Linked DNA regions of Homo sapiens: region 2 is linked to region 1. A link means that fine-mapping ties the variant in region 1 to the expression of a gene that starts in the linked region. Tissue or cell type: blood mononuclear cells. Region 1 holds a variant in brackets; the other region holds the start of a gene. All regions are shown on one strand. Distances are between the middles of the regions.

Evidence for each region. PIP is the estimated chance that this variant, and not a neighbour inherited with it, causes the effect.
Region 2: IRAK2 starts here. The variant in region 1 is fine-mapped to the expression of IRAK2 in blood mononuclear cells (TOPMed, PIP above 0.99). The same link has a PIP of 0.9 or more in T cells, monocytes after LPS, monocytes after Pam3CSK4 and whole blood.

What each region holds. Positions count from the first base shown.
Region 1 is chr3:10,193,481-10,196,325 of GRCh38, forward strand. The region is part of intron 2 of IRAK2 (interleukin 1 receptor associated kinase 2); the gene reads left to right. Among named protein-coding and RNA genes, the nearest start is that of IRAK2, 30 kb to the left of the region's middle. The variant G/A (reference allele first, on the strand shown) is at 1,674.
Region 2 is chr3:10,163,615-10,166,255 of GRCh38, forward strand. It overlaps IRAK2 (interleukin 1 receptor associated kinase 2), which reads left to right and starts at 1,305. Exons shown (of 13, transcript NM_001570.4): 1 at 1,305-1,434. The coding sequence starts at 1,341. RefSeq lists silencers at 1,140-1,269, 1,470-1,619.

The DNA of each region.
Region 1 (2,845 bases):
GGCGTGGTGGCGTGCTCCTGTGGTCTCAGCTACTTGGGAGGCTGAGGTGGGAGGATTGCTTGAACTTGGGAGGTAGAGGCTGCAGTGAGCTATGGTTGCACCAGTGCACTCTAGCCTGGGTCACAGAGCAAGACTCTGCCTCAAAAACAAAAACAAAAAATCCAGACTCTGTCTGAGAACTGCCGTGTCAACCTTCTGGTGCCTGTGGCCACCTAAGCTATAGATTAGCTGTTCCTTCCGTCACCTGCGTCCCCTTCCTATCCCTGGGGGTCCCAGCAGGGAGAACCCTGGGCTGCCCACCTCCAGTGTGTGACTGAGGCTGGCTGCCAATGGCGTGGGCACAGGCCCCCACCTCCCCTGCTGCTGGGCTCCTATGTTACTTTGCTCTCATGGCCACTGTACCTCTCGGGACTGTGCACCAAGTTGCTGCCCACCTAGAATCGGTTTCCATTAGAGTGTTTAAAATGTTAAAAATAGCCTTCCACCCTAAATGCTTCCTTCGGAGGCCCGAGTTGGGAATCAGAGGTTCTTTTCTATCTGCACCTTTCTGGCAGAACTGAAGGAGGGTGGCTGTTTGCACAGTGTTGTGGGCCCCTGCCCTGGGCCAGCCACTTCACATTTGTCATCATGGAGCCCTGGGACGGCCCTGGGAGGTGTGGGGTTATTATTCTGATTCCACAGGAGAGGCGCATGAAGCTCAGAGGGTTAGGAGGTCTGTGCCTGGGCGTGAAGCTGGAATCGCAGAGCTTGGGTCTGGCTCAAGCCAGAGCCGACGCTTCCCCACGCTTACTCTTGTGATCCTAGTTCTACTCTTTGATCACAGTCTGTGTTTTTGGATCTCATGATCCTGCAGAATCAACTTTATGTGTGGAATTCTCTTGAGAATTTAATCCTGGGAGGAAAGAGTGCTGTCTTGGAAGCCTGAGGCTGCCCCTGTCTATCTGTGATAAGAAGTCCGTGAGCAGCTCACTCCTGAGCCTTGGCCTTGGCAGATAGGAAGCTCAGTGCGAGAGTTAAAGCTTGTCACAGCCCTTTCTTGTAGGCATTTGGCCTCCTTTGCCTCATCCTGCCTTTGGTGTTCTATTTTTATTTCACTAGCTCTCTGGTGTGCCAGCCTGAATGAGTGGGCGTTGCGTCTTTCTAGCTAGCAGGGAGCAGGTTTGGAGGGATGAGGACAGAGGCCATTTTCTCCATCTTCATGTTTGGACAGTGGGACAGGCATGCATGGGCCTGCCTGTCCACCCAGCTCAGACCATGCCGGCAGCTCCAGGGTGGAGATGAGGGCGGTTCATGTTTATACGCACCATTTATTGCTTGCATTTTAAAGACATCTAAAAACTCAAAGCTTGAGAAGATGGGGGTTTCACAGGAAACCAGAACTTCTTGTTGGGGCTGACATGGGGCTCTGTTGGCTTACATCCGTGGCTGGTGTGACCTGGTGCCTCTTGTGTGGGAGGGTGGATGTTAGCCCCAAGTGTGCTGACAGGTCTGGTCACAGGTAGCCCTGCCGACACCGCCCCTCCCCATCTGTTCCTCACTCCTGCTCACTTCCAAATGCCCTGTGGTGCCAGGTGGGGCCACCGCATGTCACTGCAGAAGGAACAAGAAAAAGAAAGAGAAAAGCTGGACTCTCTTTAGGATGAAAACATAATGACATTTTTTATCTTCCCCAC[G/A]GGTGGAGCCCACAGAGGTCGGCCACAAATGGGTTGGTGGCCTTGATGTTCCTGCCAAATGTGTTTTGACAGAGAGGCAAAGATTTGTGCTGAACAAAACATTACCCTGAATAGGACACTGGACTGGGAGCAGTGGCTCAGGCCTGTAATCCCAGCACTTTGGGAGGACAAGGTGGGAGGATCACTGGGGCCTAGGAGTTTGAGCCCAGGCTGGGCAACATAGTGAGATGCTGTCTCTACACAAAATTAAAAATTAGCTGGGCGTGGTGTTGCCTGTAATCCCAGCGGCATGGGAGGCTAAGAGAGGAGGATAGCTTGAGCTCAGGAGTTTGAGGCTGCAGTGAGCTGTGATCACACCACTGCATAGCCTGGGTGACAGAGCAACACCCTGTCTCAAAAAAAAAAAAAAGGAACAGGACACTGAAGTTAAGTAAGGCTGTAAGTATCACCCTCATCCCCGTTTTACTGTGATGAGAACAATGAGGCTCAGCCAGGCAGGCCTCCGACAAGGAGAAGGTGCCTCATTTGCTGGGATCATGGGCGGTTCTGGGTGTAGGTGAGACCTTTAGGGAGCATTTTATACTGTTGCGGGCCTGGCCTCTGCAGGAGGTCACTGTTGGGAAGTGACTTCAGCGAGCCCAGCCGGCCCTGAGCCAGGGGAGCCACTGCTGCCCTTTTGACACAGATGTCACAAGGATGACAAGCCTTTCCAGGAGCATAAGCCCCACTTGAGGCAGTTTGAGGAGGGAGGGTGGAGGGAGAGAGGCAGTCTCTCCCTGCCAGAGAGGGGAGGCTGGGAAAGATGAGGACTGGGAGTGGCGGGGGGTAGCCTTCCAAGGGAGCACAGGCAGAGCTTTCACTTCTGTGCACCCTGGGAGCGACAGCTCTGTTCCAGACCCGTGCTTGAATCAGCACTCACCCCGACATTGTTCATTGTCATTCTGTACAAGGGACTGGTTTTCTGTTGTTGTTGTTTTTTGAGACAGAGTCTTGCTCTATTGCCCAGGCTGGAGTGCAGTGGCACAATCTTAGCACACTGCAGCCTCCGCCTCCCAGGTTCAAGCGATTCTCCTGCTTCAGCCTCCTGAGTAGCTGGGACTACAGGTGTGCACCACCACGCCTGGCTAATTTTTGTATTTTTAGTAGAGACGGGGTTTCGCCATGTTGGCCAG
Region 2 (2,641 bases), 30 kb before region 1:
GCGGATCACGAGGTCAGGAGTTCAAGACCATCCTGGCCAACACAGTGAAACCCTGTCTCTACTAAAAATACAAAAATTAGCTGGGCGTGGTGGCGCGTGCCTGTAATCCCAGCTACTCGGGAGACTGAGGCAGGAGAATTGCTTGAACCGGGACCTGGGAGGCAGAGGCTGCAGTGAGCCAAGATTGCGCCACTGCACTCCAGCCTGGGCTACAGAGCAAGACTCCGTCTCAAAAAAAAAAAGTTTTTTGTAGAGATAAGATCTTCCTATGTTGCCCAGGCTTCTACTTTCATTCTCCAACATAGCTTATCTGCCTATTTTTATTGCTTGTTGTCTGTCTCCCTCCAGGACAAGGATTTTGTCCTTCTCTTCAGAGGTATTCCCAGCACCTACAACAGTGCCTGGCACATAGTAGCTGCACGATACATATTAGCTACTATAGTAAAGTCTACCTGACTACCCTATTTAATAGAATATTCCCCATGCTCAATCTGAATTCCTGATTCCCTTTAACCAACTTTTTTTCCTTTTTTTTTTTTTTTGCAATAGTGCTTATTACCTTTAAGACACTCTGTAACATACTATATTTATTATTTATTGTTAGTCTTTCTCTCCACACCTAGATTGTAAGTCTTATGAAAGCAAGGGCTTTTGTAGGCTTTTTTTTTTTTTTTTTTTTTTTTTTGAGACAGAGCCTCACTCTTCACCCAGGCTGGAGTACAAGGGCACAATCTGGGCTTACTGCAACCTCCGCCTCCAGGGTTCAAGCGATTCTTCTGCCTCAGCCTCCCAGGTAGCTGGGACTACAGGCGTGCGCCACCGTGCCCGGCTAATTTTTGTATTTTTAGTAGTGACGGGGTTTCACCATATTGGCCAGGCTAGTCTCGAACTCCTGACCTCGTGATCCGTCCGCCTCGGCCTCCCAAAGTACTGGGATTACAGGAGTGATCCACCGCGCCCGGCTGTAGGGTTTCTTATTCAGGTATTACCAACACCTAGGGAGTTGCCTGGCATACAGTAGGTAATTAATGGAGTATTTGATGAGCGCATGATGCATGGTGTAGTGCCGATGGAAGTGGGGTCAGAAGGCCTCCTGCCGCTGCGGCAGAATTCCCGTGTGGCCTTCTCCCACCAGGGCCTCAGTTTCCCCTCGCAGTTCCGATTCTCTGGCCGGCGCTGGGGTGGAGCCGGCGGGGCCGTCGTGCCGCCCGTGGCCGCTGGGGACGCTGGTGCCCTCCCGCCCCGCCCACTTCCCCGCCGGTCCGCCCCTGGCTAGAGAAGCCGCAGCCCGCAGTGTCCGACCCAGTCGTCCCGCGCCGGAGCCGGCCCCGTAGCGTGCCATGGCCTGCTACATCTACCAGCTGCCCTCCTGGGTGCTGGACGACCTGTGCCGCAACATGGACGCGCTCAGCGAGTGGGACTGGATGGAGTTCGGTGAGTGCGGCCCGGGGAGGGGAGGGGACCAGGGCGACCGGAGCCCCCAGCGATCCCGCCTGGAGCGGCCGCCAAGCTCCCTCGGGCACCCGGGTTCAGCGGGTCCCGATCCGAGGGCGTGCGAGCTGAGCCTCCTGGACCGGGTCCGCCGCGGACCTCGGCCTGTCACCTGAAGGTGCCGCGTGGTCTCTGAGGACGTCTGTCGACGAGCAGGGGCCGCCGCCACTGCGCTCTGAGTCCAGAGAACGGTGGGTACGGGGGCCCTCCTGTCAGCGCTGCTGGCTCGGTGACGTCCCCAGGTGGCCTCTCATCCAGCCCACAACAGCCTGCAAAGTGCGAGCCTCGACCCTGTAGGGACCCACGGTGCTGTCACTTCTTGGGGGGGTGTGTGTGTGTGTGTGTGTGGTGTGTTTAGTTTTAGTGTATATTAGAAGGATCTATGATTTAACATATATATATATATTGAAACGGAGTTTCGCTGTTGTTGCCCAGGCTGGAGTGCAATGGCACGGTCTCGGCTCACTGCAACCTCCACCTCTGGGATTCAAGCGATTTTCCTGCCTCGGCCTCCCGAGTAGCTGGGATTACAGGCGCCCGCTACCACCCTGGCTAATTTTTTGTATTTTCAGTAGAGACCGGGTTTCACCATGTTGGCCAGACTGGTCTTGAACTATTTTTTTTTTTTTTTTTTTTTTTTTTTAAGACGGAGTCTCACTCTGTCGCCCAGGCTGGAGTGCAGTGGCGCGATCTAGGCTCGTTGCAAGCTCCGCCTCCCGGGTTCACGCCATTCTCCTGCCTCAGCCTTCTGAGTAGCTGGGACTACAGGCGCCCGCCACCACGCCCGGCTAACTTTGTATTCTTAGTAGAGACGGGGTTTCACCGTGTTAGCCAGGATGGTCTGGATCTCCTGACCTTGTGATCCGCCCACCCTGGGCCTCCCAAAGTGCTGGGATTACAGGCATGAGCCACCGCGCCCGGCCTCCGGAACTCTTGATCTCAGGCGATCCACCTGCTTCGGCCTCCCAAAGTGCTGGGATTACAGGCGTGAGCCACTGTGCCCAGCCTATTTATCATATTTGTGATTAAATGTACTTTACCATTATAGTTTTAAAATCAGATATTTACTTTTAGTGTACATTGTTTTGATCACAGTATTTATGACTATCAACCTGTTTTGAGATCAGATGTGTCCTAATAGATTCAGTGT